Homo sapiens: one gene and its partners. The protein of the gene in region 1 interacts with the protein of each later gene in a pairwise test. Each region holds a gene or a part of one and is shown in the gene's direction. Other genes may lie near its edges.

Region 1 (3,500 bases):
TCCCTGTTTGCCCCCAGGTAGGCCTTACTCTGTGCCCCCCTGTGTGGAGGAGGCTCTGGGACAGAAGCGCAAGAGGAAGGGCGCTGCCAAGCTGCAGGACTTCCACCAGTGGTACCTGGCTGCCTGTGAGTGGGTGTGGTGTGCACTCCGGACCACTGGGAGCTGGGGGCTGGGCCAGGGCCAGTGGAGGAGGATCAGCACCCTTTTCCCAATGCTGTGGGCAGCTCTTGGCCTGGCTGGTGCTGAGCATGTTCTTTCACAGATGCAGACCATGCCGACAGCAGGCGGCTTCGGCGAAAGGGTCCGTCCTTTGCAGGTGAGGCTGAAGTCCTCGGGGAAGACAGTTTTACTCTCCTTCCCCTACCTCTTCCCCCACCTGGTGTCACCCAAAGCCTTGGGTGGACTGGCACGGGGCCTGGGAAGGACGAGGGAGCCCTCACAAGGCCTTTGTCTGCAGACATGGAGGTCCTGTACTGGACACACGTGAAGGAGCAGTTGGAAACTCTCCGGAAGCTGCAGAGGAGGGAGGCAAGTCCCAGCTGGTCAGCTGTGATCTAGGACCCCGTGGTGGCCCTGATGGGAGGTGACAGTGCCCCTCACAGATGCTTTCTCTGGACAGGTGGCTGAGCAGTGGCTGCGGCCTGCAGAGGAGGACCACCTGGAGGATTCCCTGGAAGACCTGGGGGCAGCAGGTGGGTGCCTGCCAGGGGGTGGGGTGGGGCTTGGCACCTGCCGACTAGCTGCCTGCGTGCTGTTCACTCTCCCACCTCCCAGCAGATGACTTTCTAGAGCCTGAGGAGTACATGGAGCCCGAGGGAGCAGACCCCAGGGAAGCCGCTGACCTTGGTAGGTGGGCAGCGGGCTAGGAGTGCTGAGGGGCCACTGGAGCTGGGGGCAGGGGAGAGCGTGGCCCCTTAGCTGCCCAGCTCACAGCTACCCCTTCCCAGACGCAGTGCCGATGTCCCTGAGCTACGAGGAGCTGGTTCGAAGGAATGTGGTAGGCCTGGGTTAGAGGGAGACGGGGAGGGGAGGGGGACAGGTGAGCGGTGCCCAGGCCCCTGCTTGGGAGGCAGTAGCTCCTGCTGATCCTCCCCTAGGAGCTCTTCATCGCCACCTCCCAGAAGTTTGTCCAGGAGACAGAGCTGAGCCAGCGCATCAGGGACTGGGAGGACACAGTGCAGCCTCTGCTCCAGGAGCAGGTGAGGCGGGGCCGCTGGGAACCAGAGCTGTGTGCCACGGGTCTGTCCAGGGCCTTGCCTCTCTCCGCAGCCAACATGCCCCTCCCCTGTGCAGGAGCAGCATGTGCCCTTTGACATCCACACCTATGGGGACCAGCTGGTCTCACGGTTCCCCCAGCTCAATGAGTGGTGTCCCTTTGCGGAGCTGGTGGCTGGCCAGCCGGCCTTCGAGGTGTGTCGTTCCATGCTGGCCTCCCTGCAGCTGGTGAGTAGCCTGGGATACGTGGGAGGGGGAGACGGTCCCCAGACCCTGCTGATGTGCCACCCCTGCAGGCCAATGACTACACAGTGGAGATAACCCAGCAGCCCGGGCTGGAGATGGCCGTGGACACCATGTCCCTGAGACTGCTCACGCACCAGCGAGCGCACAAGCGCTTCCAGACCTACGCTGCCCCCTCCATGGCCCAGCCCTGAGTGGGGAGCACCGAGGCAGGGGTGGGGGAATGTGTACTGAGGAGCCGTGTGTCTGCTCCTGGCTGGCCCGGCCTAATAAAGCAGTGTTGCCATCTCATCTTCCCCCTAAAAACCCTTTTATGTACACCTGCGCAGAGAAGAGGGCTGCCTGGCCTCCCTGGGCCGCTGGTACAGATCACACACACACACAGATTAAACGCAGCCCGTTTAATGATGGGGCCCAGACTGCAGTGGCTCAAGACAGGACACTGCGGAAAGCCGCCATGTGCCGCCGCACACTGTCTGAGATCTGCTCAGCCGATCTGCTCCGGCCGTAGTAATCCGTGAAGAGGCCGTCAGGGTTGAGCAGGTAGATGGCAATGGAGTGGTCCACGATGTAGTCCTGGTCCTCATCCTTGGGGCCTGCATTGTAGTACACGCGGTAACTGTGACTAGCCTGGGCAACCTGTTTGGTGGAGCCGGTCAGACCCAACAGTCTTGGGTGGAAGTCCTGGACGTAGCGGGCCATGGCTTCAACGTCGTCCCGCTCGGGGTCCACAGTGATGAAGACAGGCTGCACTGGAGGCAAACCAGGCTCTGCTTCCAGCTGCCGCACCACCTGCACCAGCTTCTCCAGCTCGTCTGGGCAGATGTCAGGGCAGTGAGTGAAGCCAAAGTACATCAGCACCCACTGGCCCCGGAAGTCAGCCTTGCAGCGAGCCCGGCCTCTGTGATCCAGCAGGTGGAAGTCGCCCTGGCCCACAGCTGCCTGGCGCAGGGCTTCTGTTCGCTTTTGCTGCTGCAGCCTCTCCTTCTCAGCCCTCAGGGCCAGCCAGGCCCCACCGAGTCCAGCCCCGAACAGGCCTGTGATCAGCAGCCGGGTTCGAAGCCCAGGGCCCTGGGGCTGGCCCTGCCCACCTGTCTCTGCAGGGCCCTGCCTTGACAAAAGCCAGGACCTCAGATGCAGGGCCTGGCCTCCCAGGGTCCCAGGGAGGACCCGAGGCTTGAGCTGAGAGAGCCTGTGCCAAGCTGTGGGGCTCCGAGTCAGCAGCAGCATGGATCTGATGCTCCTGGAAACAAGCACAGGCGTCAGGAGCCAGAAGGGAAGGCCCAGGACAGTGCCTGGGCTGCCCCTGCGACTTGAGACCAGCCACCCATCTGAAGGACCCAGCCCACGTTCAGGCTTAACAGGCATTTGCAGCTGCTCACCTGAGCTCAGAACTCCACCTCCACCAAACATCCACACCTGGGCAACCACACCTGTCACTCCTGTCCTCTACCTGGGATCACCAGCCTGTCACCGCACCCTGCCCTGCACCTGCACCTCAGCAAGGTGAACCTCTTGCTGACGGAAAGCATTCCAAGTGCATGCCTTGCCTGAACTAACCACGTTATCTATTTGCAATAAACCCATTTCTTAAAAGGAGGTGGGTAACTCTCTGGCTTGCAATCCCCGAGAGCAACCGATTCCTCCAACACTTTCCTGTTACCTCCAGCCACTTCAACCAACCGCGGCCTTCCTCCACACTCCCAGCAGAAAACCTGCACGACCTACCCCCGGAGCTCAGACTCTGCCCGCCGGCTGTGTTTAACCTCTCCTGGCAGAGACGCACGACACTTCCACCCGCCACAAAACCCCACCCTCCTCACATCCAGGCTTCCCAGCAGCTCCTCCGGGCTCACAGCCGACGCCCTGCCTTTGCGTTGGTGACCTTTGAGCCTTTCCCACGGGCCCCCGCAGAAGGTTTGCTAGGTGGAGGTCTCAGGACTCCCGGTCACTGCCCCCTCCTGCTGAGGGCACCCTCCCGAGGACTCACTGCACCCCCGCCCGGGCGGTTCTGGGTTTGTGCCCTCCCCAGCAAGGCCAGC
Region 2 (3,500 bases), on another chromosome or scaffold:
TAACTTTCAATTTCTGGCTGATTTTTATATTTCAGATTCCACCCATCAACACGGAGGCCAAGGAAAATTTAATGAGCCAAATAACTTATGGCTCTTCAAATTACAAGATCTGTGGGTTTTAAAGTGTCATTGTGACTTGAACTAGCTGTCTTTCTTTCAAACAAGACTTACTTCAAATGTGATGGTCCAGCACCTCAGTCCGGCTTGATGACTTGTGCTTTTGTTTTTCCTCTCTGCATCAGTTAGCTGGCACCTCGGGTTTTGAATTCAGTTCCCTGGACTGTAAGGGGTTGAAGATTTGATTTAACTTATATTTAAAAAGGCAATGATCCCAGAACAGCAAATAATTCCTCAAGGAGCTTATTGTGTAATAAGGAGGAGATAAACACTGTCAAGACTCGCACTGTAATCAGTGCTGCCACCGAGTACAGGTGATGTCTCTGGAGATGGAGTAAAAAACACCCCATCCTTGGTGAAGGGAAACAAAGAAGGCCCCACCGAGAAGTGGGTATTTGGTGTGAACCCTAAGGGAGGGAGAGATGGAAAGAAGGAGAGGAAAGATGCTTGCCTCATAGTGCTTGCCTCCCCTCCTCTCCACAGATGGAAAGAAGGAGAGGAGGCAAGTATTATGAGGTAGGAAACCTGGAGGTGTTAGAGCACAGCAGGTATTGGATCAAGCTGAAAAACAGACAAAATGAGGACATTCTCCACAGGTGTCCACAGACTCAGTTACACGGAAGTTTATTCTGATCAACACATTGGCCATTTTACTGAGAACTAAATGTGATTTGGTGTTGACTCCTTTCTAAACTTATAAAAATAAAACTCAGATCTTAAAAATTCCATTGTCAGCATAGGTCCTAATCTGTGGTCCGGAAAACATCTGGGCATCAGGCCCACAAGGGGGTTAATGGGCTGTGGACACTGGGGTGCAAAGGTTTTCTGAGGGGAAGAGTGGTGAGATCTGGGCTTAAAAAGATGAATCGAGATGCAGTGTGTAGGAAGCATGGGCAAGGGATGAGGAACGCCACTTTGAAAATTACTAAAACTAAAGCAAGTGACTAAGAGTGTGAATGACCCTGGCTGCAATGACTACGCCTGCTGGGCTTCGTAAGTAATTATGGGTGTCTTCTGTTTTTGTCAGTATCACAAGGGAGCTTGACTCGAGCAAGGGAATGTATTATATGACTTTTGAAAAGGGTATCTTTTAATTAAGGTTTTCTTTAATTTTTCAGTATTAAAATTAGACTCTATTTCCTGAGCACCCACAAATGGACCTGACAAAGGGAAGACACAGATGTACTGCGTGATGAGGAAAGCCTATCAGGATTAAAATATGGCTGTGAGTAACTGTGGTCCTTCTTTATACTTAAAATAGCTGCCATGTGTTATTATGAAGGCTTCTGATGGTGGTATCAAAATCCTTTGAAATAATAGACTTGCACAGATTTCCCTGGTCATCTAAAAGAAAGATGTCATTATTCAGTTAAAAGCAAACTTGCACATTTTCTAAGAATCATTTTTACCAAAAAGGGACATTTTACTGCGAGACAGACATTTAAAAATTTACATGTCTTGAGATATTTTTGTATTGTGGTAGCAAAATGATTACATTTATTTCTTTTTCTCCACCTTATAATAGCTGATGCTTCCTTCAACTTATACATGCTGTTGGAGCTTTCTAAATCGGTAAATTATTGATTAGCTGATTGCAGGTTTAAAATCAAGCAGACTCTTCCAGGGATTTCAATCAGTCCTGGGCAAAATTGTGAATTAGTCAGCATTGGTTTCTGGATCTCTTTATCCCTTTAGCAACCACCTCCTGATTGTCTCTACCCACCATCCCTCATCCCTCCCCTAGGGCTCTCCAGTGGGCCCCCTGTTCACACCACCATGCCTGTCTTCCTGTCCTGTCCAGGAGTCCCTCATTCCCAGCTAGGTCTTCCTTCAATCGCCTTTCTACTTACCACACTTTCCCCTCCTTCAGGTGGGAACGGTCCTCACAAATTCCTGCTAGCACATTAATGTGCCACTTTCCTAGGTAAAATATTGCAATTTAGTAGGAGACGTTGATACTTTGACCAAAAGCAGTTATTTTTATAGGAACTTGGGCACCACAGTGTGCTGGGAGAGGAGAGGATTACAACTCCCAATGTGCTACAGAGTTTTAAAAATTCTTTCACCTCTATTTGCTCATAATTTGGTATATCAGGAAAGGTTTGGTGATGAAGACATTGGAGTATACACATATTTATATTTTAGGAGGCTTCTCAATGCAAAGAGGGTTAACCTTTCCTTTGTACCTTGCCTTTTAATCAGTAGAGGATGGTAAAACTTCAAATTAAAACTGATTTTAAAAATCATTCTAATACTTGGCATCCTCGTGCAGAATCTGAGTCCCAGAGTCATTCCTAGGGTGACTGAAGAGGCAGATATGGCAGATAATCTGAATCAGGATGAATAAGTTATTTGCTGGAATTTCTGGAATGGTTGCCTACCACTGCAGCCCCCAAATGAATGGTTTGCTCGCTGTAAATCCTGAGTTGTGGGTGAAGCCTAGAAAGTATGAGAGTTGATCCAGGAGAGAAGGATTTGGCATTTGCCCTGTATGGAAGAGAAGGCTGGGGAAGACTACTCCTGGGGTCACAATGTTGCTCATCAAGTGGAGATCCCCGGTGGGAAGGGAGGGACTGAGCAAGGTATCACCGTCCTAGTCAGCCTGCTTGTGCTGAGGAGGTCATTCTCAAGGACTCAAAAGGTTCTCTATCTAGTTCTTACCTGAATTTTTGGATTTCACAGATCCAGAAATCCTTACATCAGTTATACAGTTAATGGTCTTTTCTCTTCTTATATTTCCTTTTTGGATTATATGGTGTTTTCCTAAAGAACTTTCTGAAAATGGCCAGGCATGGTGGCTCATGCCTGTAATCCCAGCACTTTGGGAGGCTGAGGTGGGTGGATCACCTGAGGTCAGGAGTTCAAGACCAGCCTGACCAACATGGAGAAACCCCGTCTCTACTAAAAATACAAAATTAGCTGGGCGTGGTGGTGCATGCCTGTAATCCCAGCTACTAGGGAGGCTGAGGCAGGAGAATCACTTGAACCTGGGAGGCGGAGGTTGTGGTGAGCTGAGATCGCACCATTGCACTCCACCTTGGGCAACAAGAGCGAAACTCCGTCTCAAAATAAAAAAAAAGACTTTCTGAAAATGCATACCTGTCTCGGCTTTGTTGAGAATGGACAAAGAACAGGACTCTGGCCTCATTTGGGCTGGATGGAAAAAGGGCATAGAATGAGATTCTGATAATCCTGCAAGGAGAGCAGGAATCAAAGTGAGAGGATCCTCAGTAGGATATGAAAAAGCAAGGAGTATGTCAGGGATGGCCTCAGCATCTGCTCCTCTGTCATCAGCGGGCTTTCCTTTGGCCCAGCCCTTGGAGAATTTTATATTTCATATGATTAAGTATAGTTTGAATATTTTTGGTGGACACAGATGGCCC
Region 3 (4,214 bases), on another chromosome or scaffold:
GGTCCAACTAACGAGCTATGAGATGCCCAAGGTGGATGAGGACCTGGGCTCCTAAAGTCCCACAGCCCATTGTGTCCAGAGAGATGCTGCCCTGGGGACCCGACACAATGGCACCTTGGTTGCAGCCGTCCGGGCTGGCAGCTCACAGAGGCACAGTGGGGTTTTCTCATTTCAAATGCCTGGCCCCTTTCCAGAGGCACTTAGAATGGCCAGCTGATGGGCGTGCTACTTTTGCTTTGGAAAATGCGTCCACGAATATACTTCTCTCCCTAGGGACTGGGAAGGAGGAAGAATTGTGCAGCAGGGAGAGGTGAAGGCCCCACTGGAGAGAAGGGGAGCCCCTTGTCCTGCCTGCAGCAGCTGCCAATGGAAAGAAAGAAGAGTTGGGAGTCTAAGCTGGAGGTTGCGGGGCCAATTCCCTTTTGGCAGGCGAGAATCCGGACTCGGGCGGATTTCAGGCTTCAGTGTTTGTAGGAGGAAACACAGCAATCACACTATTAATAGTAAATTAAAATAAATGGGCAACTGCTGCATGGTAATACTTTTTTTTTTAAGGCAAAAAATAAAAAATAGTGAAACAGAGAAACAAAACATGAAACACCGGCAGTCAACAGGCAGGCAAAGAACCTGGGGGTGGGGGTAGCAGCGGTCCCACCCTCAAAAGGCCCGGGCTGCCCAGACCAAGAGAAAGCGATGAATCTCTTCTGGTAACGTCCCTTCCTGTCGCATGGATTCAAGGCCGACCTGCCCCAGCACCACCACCAGCAGCCTTCTGCTGGGGCCGGCACAGCTGGGAGCAACCTCCTACTCTCAGGCAGACGCGCAGCACCAAGCAGAGAGGCCCGGTGCAGGATCCCAGCGCCGAACCAGCGCCGGCTCAGTGGACGCGGAAGGGGCCGGCGGCCGCGGCCGGTCCCATCCCCCACTGCAGACCCCCAGCCTGTGGCGGTGGTCCAGTTCCGCCAGGAAACCGCCGCCTGGAGCTGTGGGTCGCGCACATTAACGCATCCAGCGGAAAAATGAAGGAGACCCAAATTCAAAGTTAAAGTAATGGTGACCCGAGAGGTGCCTTGATGAGAAGGTTTGGGGTCCCGGTTACTGATGGTTATCATTCTTACGAGATGCTGGTCACCTACGAAGGGAGAAAGGCACGAGGAGCGCCTGACCAAAGTGGTTTTGCCCTGCTTCCCGCAAGAGGTGGCACCCACGGCTGGAACGCAGGAGTCAGACCCACAGTCCCCAGCTCTGGACGCCCGCAGCGGGGCCTCGAAGAGGTTCAGGGCGGTGCCCGCGGCGCTCGGGCCGGGTCTCCCGGGGCGTGGGGCGGGGGGCGGGGTTGGGCGGCGGCCGGGGCTCCTCCCTCTTCTGCCCCGGGCTCCCCTGCTCTTAACCCGCGCGCGGGGGCGCCCAGGCCACTGGGCTCCGCGGAGCCAGCGAGAGGTCTGCGCGGAGTCTGAGCGGCGCTCGTCCCGTCCCAAGGCCGACGCCAGCACGCCGTCATGGCCCCCGCAGCGGCGACGGGGGGCAGCACCCTGCCCAGTGGCTTCTCGGTCTTCACCACCTTGCCCGACTTGCTCTTCATCTTTGAGTTTGTGAGTGGCTCCTGGCCGGGGAAGGGACGGGGTGGGCTGAGCCGTGCGCTCTCTCGGGCGCCCAGCACAGCTGTCGGACGGGATCCGCTAGCTGCGCAGGTTCTGGGAGCATCGGGGCAGCAGGCGCAGGGCGGGGACTAAGCCAGGGAAGTCCCCTCCCACCTCCGGTCCTTTGTGCCCTTCTAGACCAACAGAATGAGGGGAACAGTCTACAGGACTATGGAGGAAAAACTGGGTTCCCAACTGGGGTCAGATGTAGGCAGCGGGGCAGGGGGGGACGGCTCTTGGTTCGCTGGTCCCAAAGCTGCGCGCGGGGCCCACTTGACGCGCGCAGCGCCACCGAAGCTCCCGCCGCGCTTTGCGCGGTTGGGTAGAAGTGCGCAGCTTTTACAAGGGAGAAGGTTTCGTTAAAAAAGAAAAAAAAATCAGCAAGAGAAACATTAGTATTACCAACCGAGATTTGGAGATGAGAGGGAGCTGAATCCGGTTTATTTTCTTCTGGCCTTTTAAAGTTTCTGGCGAGGGAACGTATTTGCGACCAATTCGATCTGGAAATGAGGCCATCGTTTGCTTGGCCGCAGTCCTTCTGCCCCGTGTGCGGGGTGGGGGTGGAGGAGATGGGGGGTGGGGGGTGGGGGGTGGCGGCGAGAGCGATCCGCGCGCCTCGACTGACCTTGGGCAGGCCCGGGGCCTCTGCACCTGCGGTCGGTCCCGCCTTGCACGCACGGTCTCTGCCTGAGGCTGCAGGAAAGCGCTTCCTACTGAGAACTCCTGATAAGCGCTCACGGTGTCGCGAAGCCGAAGTGACCTCCCTCAGCCTCAACTCCCCGGGGGCCGCTGGCCTTCACCTGGGAGGGGTGTGCCCTGTATGTCCTGTGGGTGCGGTCCGTCACCGCCTGAGGGACACCTTTTCCGGCACCCCACCCTCAGAAGTGTCAGCGTGGAGAGTTGGGCGGGAAAGAAAATGTCGGAGCCTGGCTGTTTAAAAATTGGACCCCAGGTTGTTATTGCCTGATTGGAGGGGGAGGGTGTGAATACCAAAGGGAGCAGGTCAGTTCATCCAAAGAGGGCTTGCGGGCAGAGGCTAAGAGGGCTGCGGCGGCCTGGGAGCAGGGCTACCATTGAACTTAGGGTGAAAGTCCAGTCGAACCCAAACCTGGGTGGAACCGGTGACTTGAAATCCTAGGGATAGGCGGAATCAAAGCAGTTACATTTAGAAGAAACCCTGGACGCCAATGAACGCAGCCCCACCGTTTACAGAGAGCCAGCCCCCCGCTGGCCTCCTTTTAGAAGTTCAGCATACAAGAAGGAGTGCCCCTGAGAGTAGGAACAGTCCAGTTAGACGGGGCGATCTGATCTGCGGGAAAGGTGACCGGAGACTCCCACCCAACCCGCCAATGCTGCAGAAATTACAGGGGCGTGGGAAACCTTGGAACCATCTACTACTGGCAGCTTGCTCTTCCAGCGTGGCTTTGTGGCCTGCCGGTAGCGGGGCTTCCAGAAGAAACAACTCCCCCTCGCCCAGAACGCTTCTCTCAGCTGACTTAGAAAGTCACTTCTCCACCTCACCCCTGTTCCCCACCTCCCTTCCTCACTTCCCAGGAGACCCGCAATGCATAGTCATCTCCAGGCATCTTCCACATGCTCTAGATTAGGGGTGGGCTCGCAGGTGCCTGGGAGAGAAGAGGAGAAAGCTGACCCCAAGCCTCTCAGTTCTCCTCTGCATGGACTGTAAATACGAAGCTGTATATATTTGATGTGTGGAAGGAGTGGAGAATTAAAGGGCCTGAGAAGGCGCTGGCCACCCCGGGAGAGTTTTTGTTTTTGTTTTTGTTTTTGCTTTTGAGACGGAGTCTCGCTCTGTCGCCCAGGCTGGAGTGCAGTGGCGCGATCTTGGCTCACTGCAGGCTCCGCCTCCCGGGTTCACGCCATTCTCCTGCCTCAGCCTCCCAGCTACTCGAGAGGTTTTTTTAATTATGGAATATTACAACTCGACAACAAAAAGACAACCCAATTAGAAAATGGACAATGGACTTGAACAGAGGTTTCTACAAAGAAGATACACAAATGGCCAATATGCACATAAAAAGATGCTTAACATCATCAGGCATTAGGAAAACTAAATTGAAACCACAATGAGGCCAGTTGCGGTGACTCACGCCTGTAATCCCAGCACTTTGGGAGGCTGAGGTGGGTGGATCACCTGAGGTCAGGAGTTCGAGACCAGACTGACCAACATGGTGAAACCCCATCTCTACTAAAAATACAAAAAAAAAAAAAAAAAAAAAAAACCCGGCTTGGGTGGCTCATGCCTGTAGTCCCAGCTACTCAGCAGGCTAAGGCATGAGCATCGCTTGAACCTGGGAGGCAGAGGTTGCAGTAAGCCGAGATCATGCCGCTGCACTCCAGCCTGGGCAACAGAGTGAGACTCGGTCTCAAAAAAATAAATTAATAAGTAAATAAATTAAATAAATAGAAAGAAAGAAATCACAATGAGATACCACTTCACACCCATTAGGATGGCTACTATCCAAAAAACGGAAAACATCAAGTATTGGATGTGGAGAAATTGGAACCCTTGGTATGCCACTGGCGGGAATGTGAAATGGTTCAGCCACTGTG
Region 4 (3,500 bases), on another chromosome or scaffold:
GTATCTAGCGGGTGGTAGTGGAAGAGGTAAGTAGCCAGATTCTAAATATGCTTTGAAGGTAGACAGGGTTTGCTGATGGATTGGATGTGAGGTAAAGAGAAACAGAGGAATTAAGCATAACTCAAAGGTTTTTTTTTTTCTTGGACACATTCCACATTTTATTTACATTTTCAGACTAACTTTGGGCTGGGTGCTGTGCCTCATGCCTGTAATCTCAGCACTTCGGGAGGCCAAGGCAAGTGGATCACTTGAGATCAGGAGTTCCAGACCAGCCTGGCCAACATGGTGAAACCTTGTCTGTACTAAAAATACAAAAATTAGCCAGGCGTGGTGGCATGTGCCTGTAGTCCTAGCTACTCGGGAGGCTGAGGCAGGAGGATTGCTTGAGCCCAGTAGGCAGAGGTTGCAGTGAGCTGAGATCATGCCACTGCATTCCAGCCTGGGCAACAGAGAGAGGCTCCATCTCAAAAAAAAAAAAAAAAGACCAACTTTAGTTTCAAAATTATATCTCCATATATGTATCCCTTTTTTGTTGATGTCACTTAACCTTAAGTGCATAGTTTGTTAAAAAAAAAAAACTGTAAGCAAATATTTACCATGTCTGTTACGTGTAACACACATGAACAGCTTTTAACAGAAATTCATCAACTCCCCCCCAACATTTTTTATTATAAGATAGGTATCAAAACAATCCTGAACATATTTTTCATACTACTAGTAGTCAGCACCCACACCACTTCAAAAATTAACACATTTGTGCTGGATGTGGTAGTTTTTACCCATAATCCCAACACTTTGGGAGGCTGAGGCAGGCAGATCACCTGAGTTCAGGAGTTCGAGACCAGCCTGGCCAGCATGGTGAAACCCCATCTCTACTAAAAATACAAAAATAAGCTGGGCATGGTGGTGCATGCCTGTAGTCCCAGCTACTTGGGAGGCTGAGGTAGGAGAATCGCTTGAACCTGGGAGGTTGTAGTGAGCCAAGATCTCATCACTGCATTCCAGCCTGGGCAACAGAACAAGACTCCATCTCAAAAAAATAAAAAAAATTAAAAAAATCAAACACATTTGTGACAGTGTTCATTGTACCTGCTACTTTTTTTTTTTTTTTTAATTTAACGGAGTCTTGCTCTGTCGCCTAGGCTGGGGTACAGTGGTGCGATCTTGGCTTACCACAATCTCCGCCTCCCAGGTTCAAGTATAATCCCAGTAGCTGGGATTACAGGTGCCCGCCTGGCTAATTTTTGTATTTTTAGTAGAGACGGGGTTTCGCCATGTTGGCCAGGCTGGTCTCTCTAACTCCTCACCTCAAGTGATCAACCCTCCTTGGCCTCCTAAAGTGCTGGGATTACAGGCGTGAGCCACTATGCCTGGCCAATACCTGCTACTTTTTAAACAATTTCAACTGCAGCTCTCTTTCACTAAGCAAGATGGATAAAGCATGCCATTTCTGTTTTCTTTTTTCTTGAGACAGAATTTTGCTCTTGTTGCCCAGGCTGGAGTACAATGGCACGATCTCGGCTCACCACAACCTCCACCTCCGGGGTTCAAGCAGTTCTGCCTCCGCCTCCCAAGTAGCTGGGATTACAGGCATGGGCCACCACGCCCTGCTAATTTTGTATTTTTAGTAGAGACAGGGTTTCTCCATGTTGGTCAGGCTGGTCTCAAACTCCTGACCTCAGGTGATCTGCCCACCTTGGCCTCCCAAAGTGCTGGCATTAAAGGTGTGAGCCACCTCTCCTGGCCTCTGTTTTCTTTTTCCTTTCCTTTTTTGTTTGAGATGGGGGTCTTACTCTGTCACTCAGGCTAGAGTGCAGTGGTGCGATCTCAGCTCACTGCAACTTCTGCCTCCCGGGATCAAGCGATCATCCTACCTCAGTCTCCTAAGTAGCTGGGACTACAGGCGCGTGCTACCACGCCTGGTTAATTTTTGGATTTTTTGTAGGGACGGACTTTCACTATGTTGGCCAGGCTGGTCTTGAACTCCTGGCCTCAAGTGATCTGCTCGCCTGAGCCTCCCAAAGTGCTGGGATTACAGACATGAGCCACTGTGCCCAGCCCTGTTTTCTTTATTGAGATTTTTAGTCTTTAGAAACACACATGCTTCCACTGCCATCTGACACTTCTTACCACGCTTTCATCTTGTAAACCTGAATTATATTTCGAGTACTCCAAGTTTATGTTTAAATGACAGTACCTTAACAAGAGAAAAAAATTGGGTTGCATTTTTCCTGTTACCTGAAAACATAATGGGTGTACATATATTAAATATATTCTTACAAATGTCCAGGTCATGTTTACCAGCCGGAGTTCTTTTATTTAACGTGTGGGTATTTTGCATTGTGATATTTAATCAAGACATTAACACGAGTAGAAGGTTGTTGATATAAGACAAGTTTGAGATCCACTAAAATTAATTGTTGTATGTTTGTCCTTCCAGTGGCTGTGGAAGCTTCATATTTTCTTTGGACATCATTAGACGTCTTAGCTCCTGAAGTACAACTTTAATGCTATATGAATTTTGTCATTTTGCTAACACTGGTGTGCTGCGGTCATCCACCATCCCACTGGAGTTATTTATTCCATTCATATTAATTCTTGTTACAAATCTAACTGATGGGGGAGCTTCTGGGTATTTGGGTCCACTTTCTATTTTCAGGCTATATATTCTTTTTTTTTATTTTTGAGACAGAGGCTCGCGCTGTGGCCCACACGGGAGCGCAGTGGCGTGATCTCGGCTCACTGCAACCTCTGCTTCCTAGGTTCATGTGATTCTCCTGCCTCAGCTTCCCGAGTAGCTGGGATTACAGGTGCACACCACCACACCCAGCTAATTTTTTGTATTTTTAGTAGAGATGAGGTTTCACTATGTTGGGCAGACTAGTCTCAAACTCCTGACCTCGTGATCTGCCCTCCTTGGCCTCCCAAAGTTCTGGGATTATAGGTGTGAACTGCCATGCCCGGCCTATATTCTCTTTTCATAATTTGTCCTTGGTGGCCCAATAATCATGCCTGTCCACCTTGTAAATGTCATATCTTCATCATCTTTAAGGCCCCAGTTAATCATACCATTGCCTATCAATAGCTGCATAAGCATAACTCAAAGGTTTTGACCTGAGAACTGGAAGATACCATCTGGAGTGATGTCATCATGTGAGAAGGGCAAGGCTGGGGATAGAACAAGTTTTGGGGGAAAAGCAAGCAATTGACTTCGTGGTTTTTTGTTTTGTTTTTTGTTTGTTTTGAGACAGAGTCTCACTCCGTCTCCCAGGCTGGAGTGCAGTGGCATGATCTCGGCTCACTGCAGCCTCTGCCTCCCGGGTTCAAGTGATTCTCAGCCTCCCAAGTAGCTGGGATTACAGGCGTCTGCCACCATGCCTGGCTAATTTTGTATTTTTAGCAGAGACGGTGTTTCACCATGTTGTCCAGACTGGTCTCAAACTCCTGACCTCAGGTGATCCACCCACCTTGGCCTACCAAAGTGCTGGGATTACAGGCAT
Region 5 (2,853 bases), on another chromosome or scaffold:
GGTATTACAAAGAAGTGACAGATGAATTCTCTGTTTGGTTCTAATTTGAGAATTGCTTTGGGAAAAAAGAAAGGGAAACAGAATCATCCCTGACTCAGAGCAGAGGCACTAATGTTCTCTGTGCAGACTATTTGTCCTGTGCAGAGAAAGGTTCAAGGCAGCCAGGGGCTGTGACCTGTTGAGCTGGTGGCTGGTCAGAGCTACCTGGCTGTACAGCCCAGGAATGGCTGCTAATTTAAAGCTCTTTGGGCAACCTCTAGTTCCCTCAGGTGCAGAGCCAGTTCTGCACAAAGGACATCAAAATTGACTGGAGCCCTGAGGGGGTCTAAAGGAGCCCACCCTCCTAGCAGGAAGCCAGCCTGGCATTGGGGAGGATGCCAGCTGAGGCTGGAGGGAGGGCAACTCTGTCCCCAGAGATAACTTCCTGGGGATCGTAGCATGTTGAATTTTCACTTAGCGTTAACTTTAGTTTTTTATTGGTGGAAAATGATTTCAAATCTTATTGTTTTAAGATCACTTAAAAATTTGAGAATGAAATTGATTCACATTGTGACATATCCATAGCAAACTCGGGCTTTGGGCTGGCTTTCCCTCTTTGCTTAGTATTTATCTGTTCTGTCTTCTTTGCCCTGCTGGTGTGTGCTTAGAAAAATGAACAATCATTTTAATGTTATATTCAGCAGAACAAATTGGCAGTGAACACACTGTAAAGTTAGTATGCTTTTCAGGTTGACATTGCAGTGGTATAACCCTACAAAAGTAGATAACAGGGTTAAACAAAAATTGATTTTAGCTCTTTATTTGTACGTTTTTTCTTCAGCTTGGATTTTCAGTGTTGATGCTGCATGTTATAGGCTGTGAAGTTTGACAATACCCAAAAGAGAATGAAAGTGGAAATGAGAGGAATTTGGTAACACGGTGTTTTTAATGTGAACTTTTTGTTTAAAGCAAATGCAGCCCTGAGGATTTGGCTACTGCATATAACAACAGGGGGCAAATCAAGTACTTCAGGGTTGATTTTTATGAAGCCATGGATGACTACACATCTGCCATAGAAGTCCAACCCAATTTTGAAGTTCCATATTACAACAGAGGGTTGATACTGTATAGGCTGGGTAAGAATTTTTTTTCTTTTTGAGTTTTGTCATTGACTGTATTCTGTTATTTCAGAGCTTTCAAATGTTGTAAAACTAACGTGGTAATCAAATTTTAAAGTTCTGTGAAATTTAGGTTTAGAGCTTGGAACAAAGGAAGTGTCCCTGAGTTTATTTTAGGCTTTTGATAGGCGTTATAGATCACAGCAGAGCACTGGGGTGGGAATTGGACCTGGGCGCAGGAGCAGGGGTGACCCCATTACTTTGTGCTTGTGCATTCCCAGCTGTGAAATGAGGGCAATTCAGATGTTCACCTGTGAAACTTTTCTGAGTTAAAATCTTTGAAGACACACAAGACAATAGAAAGTGAAGTTTAGATTCTTGGATTAAAGGGACCATAGGTAGTGTTTCTTCATTTAAAGTGTCAAAAAGAAAATTAGTTCCCGTTTCTTAATTTTACTGCAATTATGTAAAACAGGTGATACAGTTTTATTAAAATTTTAAGATGATTGATAATATTTACCTGTTAAATCTCAATAAATAAACCCATAGCTAATTTTAGGTGTATTATTCCCTAAGGGCACACAAAATTACTTTGATATACACATCTCTATATTATTAAGATAAAAAGATTCCTTTACTAGAAGTGACTGAAAGCTCATAAATATAAAAGCAAAAGTACATGTATCAAAGCTTTTCCATGAATAATATATAGAAATACTCGGTTTCTTTTCTCTTTTCCATTTTTTGGGTTCTGGTACAGGATATTTTGATGATGCTTTGGAAGATTTCAAGAAGGTCTTAGACTTAAATCCTGGATTTCAAGATGCTACTTTGAGCTTAAAACAGACTATTCTAGACAAAGAAGAAAAACAAAGAAGAAATGTTGCAAAAAATTATTGATATTTTTAACTTAATGGAAGTATTGATTCATGATCCTTACATCTGCATCTAGTTATCAGTAATTTAGATATTGAGCTATTTTGATTTATATTTAAGAAATTAATACATTAGCACTGAAAGTTAAATAGTGTGTTTAAGGTAGTTAATTTCAGGTTGAATGGGTTTTTTTTAATGAAGTGTAAATAATACCAATGTATAAGTGTATATTATTATATTAAATATTATAGTAAAAAGGAATGTGTGGTATTTTCTTCAGCAAAACTATTTTTGTGATTTTTTTATTCTCAACTTTTTATTTAAAAAATGTTACATCTGCAGAAAAGTTGAAAGTATAATAAACTCTTCAGTTAAATTCATGAGTTGTTAATATTGTGCCACATTTGCTTTTTCTATTTAAATATATAACTTTTTGCTGAAACATTTGAAAATAAGGTGACGAGGTCACAGTACTTCGCCCCTAAATATTTCAGCCTACATTTTCTAAGATTGAGGACATCCTCCTTTATAACCACAATACCATTATAATACCTAATAAAATGAATAATTCTGTAATGTCAGCCATATCCAGCCCATATTCCAAAGTGTGTAGATTTTTATTTGGATCTAGAGCCAATCAGGTTTCAATTGCATTTTTTTTTTTTATGTTTCTCTCAGTTCTTTTAATCTAGTCCCCTGTCCATTTTCTTGCCCTAGCATTGGCTTTGAGAGAAAGGCTATTTTATATAGCTAGGCTAGAGAGACATAACATTTAGGCTTAAAAATAAACATGTCCTACAATTTGAAAGAGTTCAGCTTGAATTACACTTGATTTTCTCAAGTAATCATTGATAAAAATAGGTTAAGATTTAAATATTGA
Region 6 (3,500 bases), on another chromosome or scaffold:
TAGAATTCTGACAGCAGTTACTTTTTGCATTCATTTAGTGGCACCTGCTTAACCAGGAGATTAAAAGCCATCCACAGACCATGATTGTGAGGTATCATGGAACTATGTTTTTAGTTTTAAACCTATAAACTGAAGTGACTAAGAGCAGATATTTTACATTCTTAGGTAACATTTAAGGATTCCTTTTGTTATTTTTAGTATCGAGTTGTGCTGTAGACTCCTATATAGCCATGTAGTTATTTTTATTGTGTTACTTATTCTAACTTTAGATCACCTATACCATGAAAGATCTAAAAGCAATATTGATGTTCACTGCTTTGAGGCAGGCAGCCCAGGACTATTCCCAGGAAAACACAATGTATCCACAGTTCTTAGTGATCAGACATTGATTACTATCAGTTTATTCCAGATAGATCTGTAGAGAAACCTCTCATTTTGTAATACTATAAGATAAAATGAAAATCACCTTGACAGATGGGTGTTTTATGTCATTGCAGTTGTGTTACAGGTGCTCAGTTTGGTATATATAAGACTTAACAGGGAGGGACAGCACTTTATCGAATAACCTCATCTGATGTGACGTCAGTGTTAATAGTTAAAGCACAATCTTTGAGGCAATTTAGTGAGTATTCAGCCTTTTTAGAGGGTCAACAGTGATAGCGACCTATGTATTCTATGCTGTTTCCCCACTCACAAGCCTCCTTATCATCTCTTCTTGTAGCTGAGCTTTATTTTGAAGTTTTCCAAACCTTCAGTCTCACACAAGAGTTGTCACTTACCAATTTGATAAACACAGTTAAGTCCTCCAATACTTTTACCAAAGCATGATTTTCAGACATTTGTTGTATTTGCCTAAAGGGTAAAAAAAAAAAAGGCTATCAATGAAAATTGTGACAGAAAATTACCAGTGAAATCTAAAGTTCAGCAGTGCAGATACATTTCAAAGCCTACACAGAGGGCTGCCAACTACAGCATTGTCACAAACCAGAGATCCCAGTAGGTGGAGCTTAGACATAGGAAGTTGTGAGGTAGGGCTCTCGGGAAGTAAAAAGTGCTTTCTTTTATAAATGAAGATAAAATTGCTGAAATATTCTCACTGCTGTTTGTCCATTTGGTCCTTATGTTTTCAGATCTGACTTTTAGAGAAACAAGGCATTTTGGTAGCACTGCTTACCTTATATCACTTACCGACATATGCTGTACCTGTTTAATTCAGCAGAAGAGCAACTTAGATATTCTTAACTGATTGAAAACTGCTGTTATTACAAAATGCTGATCTCCAAACTTTAACTGAACTCTGCATTTGATGTAATAATGTTATAGAACATTTGAGAGTGCATGTGTTTGTTACTCTCAGTTTATTGGTATATATAATTTAAAATGAAACTGTTTTCTCTTTCAGTGCATTTGAAACGCCACTTTATGTTTCGAAACCATCTCTGTTTAGTTTTTGAAATGCTGTCCTACAACCTCTATGACTTGCTGAGAAACACCAATTTCCGAGGGGTCTCTTTGAACCTAACACGAAAGTTTGCGCAACAGATGTGCACTGCACTGCTTTTCCTTGCGACTCCAGAACTTAGTATCATTCACTGTGATCTAAAACCTGAAAATATCCTTCTTTGTAACCCCAAACGCAGTGCAATCAAGATAGTTGACTTTGGCAGTTCTTGTCAGTTGGGGCAGAGGGTAAGTATTATTTCAGAACTTGTGAATTAAATAGAAATTAAATAGAAGTAGGTAGGACAGTGTAGGTATTAGGTTGGCGCAAAAGTAATTGCGGTTTTCGCCATTGCAGTTGCTGTTTTTGCAGTGGCAAAAACCGCAATTACTTTTGCGCCAACCTAATAGATATTTGAAATGTTAATAAGGTGTATACCATTTAGAGGCAATTACAGGATGCTTATTTATCTTTAAAATGTAGCACTTAATTACCTTGTGTTGATATCTATTTTGGGGAAATACCTTTTAAAATGCAAATAGCAATACTTTGAGTCAAAAGACATTGATTTTTTTGAAATGGGTATATTTAAAATTGTATGTATGCTAAAAGATTAAGGGAGAGAATAGGAGATGGAATGATTAAATATTAGGGGATTTGTAACTATATTTCCCAAGTAAAGGTTTTAGTATAAATTTTGGGACTTTCCAGTACTAGAACATTGAATCTTTGCTGTAAAATACTTCTCTGAAGATGGATCAAGATAAATCTTTTTTCTCAAAAACTGATGGTTCAAAAAAATGCAGGTAATTTTGCATTAGTCATGGTATAAGTATAGAAAATTCAGTTGATAGACTTACTTGTTTTGATAAATAAGTTTGTCTTATTTTCCCCACTCTTATTTAAAATTTACATAAATTCTGACACATATCCAAGCTGGTTTTTTTCAGACTGCTAAAAACAGATGTGTTCGTAGTGCTGATAAGTTTAGCTGATTTAGGAAAGCAGTTTTTTCCTGTCATTCTTCCAGCATTATGAAAACTACTCTAACAGCATTGTTTTATGTATAAAATAGAAGTGATAGGGGTCTCCTCTTGAAAGGAATTAGTGTCACCATTTGATAATATTTTACTCATTTTAAGCACTATTCTTTTTGCTTTAAGTATTGAAACTATATTTCTTCTGTTTTAAAGAAACCCGGCTAACATACAGATGTTAATTTTTCTTACTGACTTTTCTGTTTCTTATTTTTCCAAATTAGTGAAATTTTCTGTCCCGTCCTACTTTTGTCCAGGTTTTAACTATAACAGATTAATTTAATCATAAGGATTTATAGCCAATTAATAGGACTGTCTTTTTGTTATTTTCTGCAACTTCTCATGGTAGTGAGGCTATCAAATGTTAAAGTAATTTTTAAAAATTGGAGTAGGGAGCAAAGTTTGCAGTTTTAGATGCCTTCAAAAAATCAAGAGATGCTCGTAGTTAATATGTGGTAGAGTATATTGTGAATGAAAAATACATGCCCATCTTGACAGTAATTTGAATAGATTATAGAGTTGGGAAAATTTCCCCCTATTTAAGCCAAATTATGTATTTTGTCCTAATATTAAACATTATTATTTCTGTCTAGCCAAAATGAGCCAGTTATCCCTACAATAAGTTTTTAACTATTCAAGTTCATTGGCATCACATGGGAAGTTATTTCTAAAATAGACCTGCAGTGGTCCTGCCCCTAGATCTGTTGGATTAGAATCAGAAGGTGGTAGGGCAAGTGTGTTTTGGGGAAAGCAACTGCTTTAAACAAATTAGATAGGGAGGTGACAAAGTTCTTGGCATAAGCTGTGAAATAAAAGTCTCAGGAGTGGTGAGTGTTTGGGCCTAGGGAGTTAACAATGGTATTGGCTTATAAAAACCATGGAAATGTAATACTTCTTCCCAGTTCTTTTAAATTAGACTTTCTTCTCATAGTTCCTTAAGGTTGGTTGACCTACCTGTGGAGGCCTGAGATTGTTCTCGAAGACTTGGCTGGAGGTTTCAGTGGGAACCACAGAAAATTTCA
Region 7 (2,779 bases), on another chromosome or scaffold:
ATATATACACTAATAGGAAATGTTTCAAAAACAATAGCTAGTTTAATGTCAAAATGGCATGAGTATATCCATTCACCGTGGAAATGGGTTTGTTCTCATATTTGCTTTCCAGTCCATCCAAACTCCTCCCTATATGGTGGCAGAAGTTTTAGTGCAAAGCCATGACTGCAGCCTTTTGTGTGACTTGCATGGAAGATTTGGGGGCCCCATATTTCTTAGATGTGTAGATGTCTTTTACAGAAAATTTTGCTAAAAGAGAATTTTGATTGAATCCTGTTTTCTATTTTTTGTTGTTGTTATTGAGACGGAGTATCACTCTGTCACCCAGGATGGAGTGCAATGGCGTGATCTCCGCTCACTGCAATCACCATCTGCCTCCCGGGTTCAAGCGATTCTCATGCCTCAGCCTCCGGAGTAGCTGGGATTACAGGCGTGCACCACCATGCCCAGCTATTTTTGTTGTTTTGGTAGAGATGGTGTTTCACCACATTGGCCAGGCTGGTCTGGAACTCCTGATCTTGTGATCCGCCCACTTCGGCCTCCCAAAGTGCTGGGATTACAGGCGTGACCCACTGCGGCTGGCCCTGTTTTCTAATTTTGATTATAAAACCTAAACCAAATTGTGGTTTTTAAAAAATTTAGTTGTGGCTGGGCACAGTGGTTCACACCTGTAATCCCAGCAATTTGGGAGGCAGAGGCAGGCGGATCACCTGATGTCAGGGGTTCAAGACCATCCTGGCCAACATTGCGAAACCCCGTCTCTATGAAAAATACAAAAATTAGCTGGTTATGGTAGTGGGCACTTGTAATCCCAGCTACTCGGAAGGCTGGGGCAGGGAGAATTGCTTCAACCTGGGAAGCGGAGATTACAGTGAGCTGAGATCATGCCACTGCACTCCAGCCTGGGGGACAGAGCAAGACTCCATCTCAAAAAACAAACAAACAAACAAACAAAACTTTAGTTGTAGGCCAGGTGTGGTGGCTCATGCCTACAATCCCAGCACTTTGGGAGGCCAGAGCGGGCGGATCACTTGAGGTCAGGAGTTCAAGACCAGTCTGCCCAACATGGTGAAACCCCATCTCTATGAAAAATACAAAAATTAGCCGGGCATGGTGGTGCACACCTGTAATCACAGCTACTTGGGACACTGAGTCAGGAAAATCTCTTGAACCTGGGAGACGGAGGTTGCAGTGAGCCGAAATTGTGCTGCTGAACTCCAGCCTGGGCAACAGAGGTGAGTGAGACTCCATCTGAAAAAATAAAAATAAAAAACCTTCTCAAAAACAAAAAATTTAGTTAAGTATCATAAAGACATCCTGAAGGTAGGGGAATTTTTAAAAATCTGTTTTGGAGAAAGATTACATACTCTGATCATAGTTGTGATGCTACCAGTATAATGTTTTATACCTGAAGCAAGGAAGTCAGTGTGGAGCAAGGTCTAGAGCAGTAAACTGAGACGCTGGAGAGTCTACCATTAATCAGATCTGTGATGGTGGGGAGGCCTTGCTCTCTCTTGCCTCCATTTCTTCATCTCTTCAAATTATTGGCAGTTGGGTTAGGATCCAGCTCATGTGTGCTATTTTAAGACTCCCTTGGCTTGCTTTTTCTCTGGTTCCTCCAGGGATGGAAATTTACCCCTGACCACTCTTGCCTTAGTACCTCCTCCCCCACGCAGTTGTGAGGAACCAGCAGTTTAGTTCCTTAAAAACATAGTTGCCTGTTCTGTCCTTTACCTGACATTTTCTATCTTGTTTCTTTTAAACAGTTTGCTGATGGTCGCCAAAGTTGGAGTTAGTATGTTCAACAGACCCCATTAGCAGAAGTCATGTTCCAGCTTAGACTGATGAAGAATTAAAAATCTGCATCTTCCACTATTTTCAATATATTAAGAGAAATAAGTGCAGCATTTTTGCATCTGACATTTTACCTAAAAAAAAAGACACCAAACTTGGCAGAGAGGTGGAAAATCAGTCATGATTACAAACCTACAGAGGTGGCGAGTATGTAACACAAGAGCTTAATAAGACCCTCATAGAGCTTGATTCTTGTATATTGATGTTGTCTTTTCTTTCTGTATCTGTAGGTAAATCTCAAGGGTAAAATGTTAGGTGTCAGCTTTCAGGGCTCTGAAACCCCATTCCCTGCTCTGAGGAACAGTGTGAAAAAAAGTCTTTTAGGAGATTTACAATATCTGTTCTTTTGCTCATCTTAGACCACAGACTGACTTTGAAATTATGTTAAGTGAAATATCAATGAAAATAAAGTTTACTATAAATAATATTTCCTATGGGGTCTTCATTGCCAGAGCTGTCTAGTTCATAGAATGAGATATTGCTAGCAGCAAGATATAGAAACATGAAAGTATTTTGTTAATATTTAGAAATTACCTATTTTGAATAACTTAAGGACCAAGGAAACTTATTTGATTGTACATTGCATTGAAGCTTGTTTCAAAAATGACCTCTGAGGATTTTTTTTGTTTTTCAAGAGACAAGGTCTTTCTCTGTTGCCTAGGCTGGAGGGCAGTGGTGCAATCATATGTCACTGTAGCCTCAAACTCTTGGGTTCAGTCATCCCACCTCAGCCTCCTGAATAGCTGGTACTACTGGTGCATACCACCACACCCAGCTAATGTACTTTTTTTTTTTTTGGAGATGCAGTCTTGCTCTGTTGCCCAGGCTGGTCTCAAACTCCTGGTCTCAAGTGATCCTCTCGCTTTGGCCTCCCAAAATGTACTGGAGTAATAAGCATGACCTACTGTACCTGGCCACTGAGGTT

What was found.
Region 2: the proteins of NCAPH2 (region 1) and CTXN3 interact in binary tests that used the Homo sapiens proteins (3 or more experiments, as listed by UniProt).
Region 3: the proteins of NCAPH2 (region 1) and MAL interact in binary tests that used the Homo sapiens proteins (3 or more experiments, as listed by UniProt).
Region 4: the proteins of NCAPH2 (region 1) and UBIAD1 interact in binary tests that used the Homo sapiens proteins (3 or more experiments, as listed by UniProt).
Region 5: the proteins of NCAPH2 (region 1) and TTC32 interact in a two-hybrid assay, tested with the Homo sapiens proteins (one large-scale study listed by BioGRID).
Region 6: the proteins of NCAPH2 (region 1) and DYRK1A interact in a two-hybrid assay, tested with the Homo sapiens proteins (one large-scale study listed by BioGRID and IntAct).
Region 7: the proteins of NCAPH2 (region 1) and TMEM14C interact in binary tests that used the Homo sapiens proteins (3 or more experiments, as listed by UniProt).

Annotation. Positions count from the first base shown.
Region 1 is NC_000022.11:50,521,724-50,525,223, forward strand, and holds the end of NCAPH2 (condensin-2 complex subunit H2), read left to right. Parts: intron 1-17; coding exon 18-125; intron 126-262; coding exon 263-316; intron 317-457; coding exon 458-528; intron 529-619; coding exon 620-692; intron 693-774; coding exon of another isoform or gene 775-777; coding exon 778-846; intron 847-947; coding exon 948-997; intron 998-1,097; coding exon 1,098-1,199; intron 1,200-1,293; coding exon 1,294-1,443; intron 1,444-1,511; coding exon 1,512-1,652; 3' UTR 1,653-1,887; coding exon of another isoform or gene 1,888-2,688; 3' UTR 2,689-3,057; downstream 3,058-3,500. Other genes in the region: protein SCO2 homolog, mitochondrial precursor, read right to left, coding at 1,888-2,688. UniProt on the Homo sapiens protein: Regulatory subunit of the condensin-2 complex, a complex that seems to provide chromosomes with an additional level of organization and rigidity and in establishing mitotic chromosome architecture.
Region 2 is NC_000005.10:127,652,082-127,655,581, forward strand, and holds part of CTXN3 (cortexin-3), read left to right. Parts: intron 1-171; exon of another isoform or gene 172-280; intron 281-968; exon of another isoform or gene 969-1,110; intron 1,111-1,235; 5' UTR 1,236-1,342; intron 1,343-3,500.
Region 3 is NC_000002.12:95,024,294-95,028,507, forward strand, and holds the start of MAL (myelin and lymphocyte protein), read left to right. Parts: upstream 1-1,414; 5' UTR 1,415-1,499; coding exon 1,500-1,592; intron 1,593-2,046; exon of another isoform or gene 2,047-2,140; intron 2,141-2,265; exon of another isoform or gene 2,266-2,736; intron 2,737-4,214. UniProt on the Homo sapiens protein: May be involved in vesicular trafficking from the Golgi apparatus to the cell membrane. Plays a role in the maintenance of the myelin sheath, and in axon-glia and glia-glia interactions.
Region 4 is NC_000001.11:11,276,198-11,279,697, forward strand, and holds part of UBIAD1 (ubiA prenyltransferase domain-containing protein 1), read left to right. Parts: intron 1-2,216; exon of another isoform or gene 2,217-2,676; intron 2,677-2,979; exon of another isoform or gene 2,980-3,078; intron 3,079-3,500. UniProt on the Homo sapiens protein: Prenyltransferase that mediates the formation of menaquinone-4 (MK-4) and coenzyme Q10. MK-4 is a vitamin K2 isoform present at high concentrations in the brain, kidney and pancreas, and is required for endothelial cell development.
Region 5 is NC_000002.12:19,896,131-19,898,983, reverse strand, and holds the end of TTC32 (tetratricopeptide repeat protein 32), read left to right. Parts: intron 1-948; coding exon 949-1,115; intron 1,116-1,857; coding exon 1,858-1,997; 3' UTR 1,998-2,353; downstream 2,354-2,853.
Region 6 is NC_000021.9:37,488,773-37,492,272, forward strand, and holds part of DYRK1A (dual specificity tyrosine-phosphorylation-regulated kinase 1A), read left to right. Parts: intron 1-779; exon of another isoform or gene 780-852; intron 853-1,174; exon of another isoform or gene 1,175-1,273; intron 1,274-1,402; coding exon 1,403-1,689; intron 1,690-3,500. UniProt on the Homo sapiens protein: Dual-specificity kinase which possesses both serine/threonine and tyrosine kinase activities. Exhibits a substrate preference for proline at position P+1 and arginine at position P-3.
Region 7 is NC_000006.12:10,728,849-10,731,627, forward strand, and holds the end of TMEM14C (transmembrane protein 14C), read left to right. Parts: intron 1-1,766; coding exon 1,767-1,818; 3' UTR 1,819-2,279; downstream 2,280-2,779. UniProt on the Homo sapiens protein: Required for normal heme biosynthesis.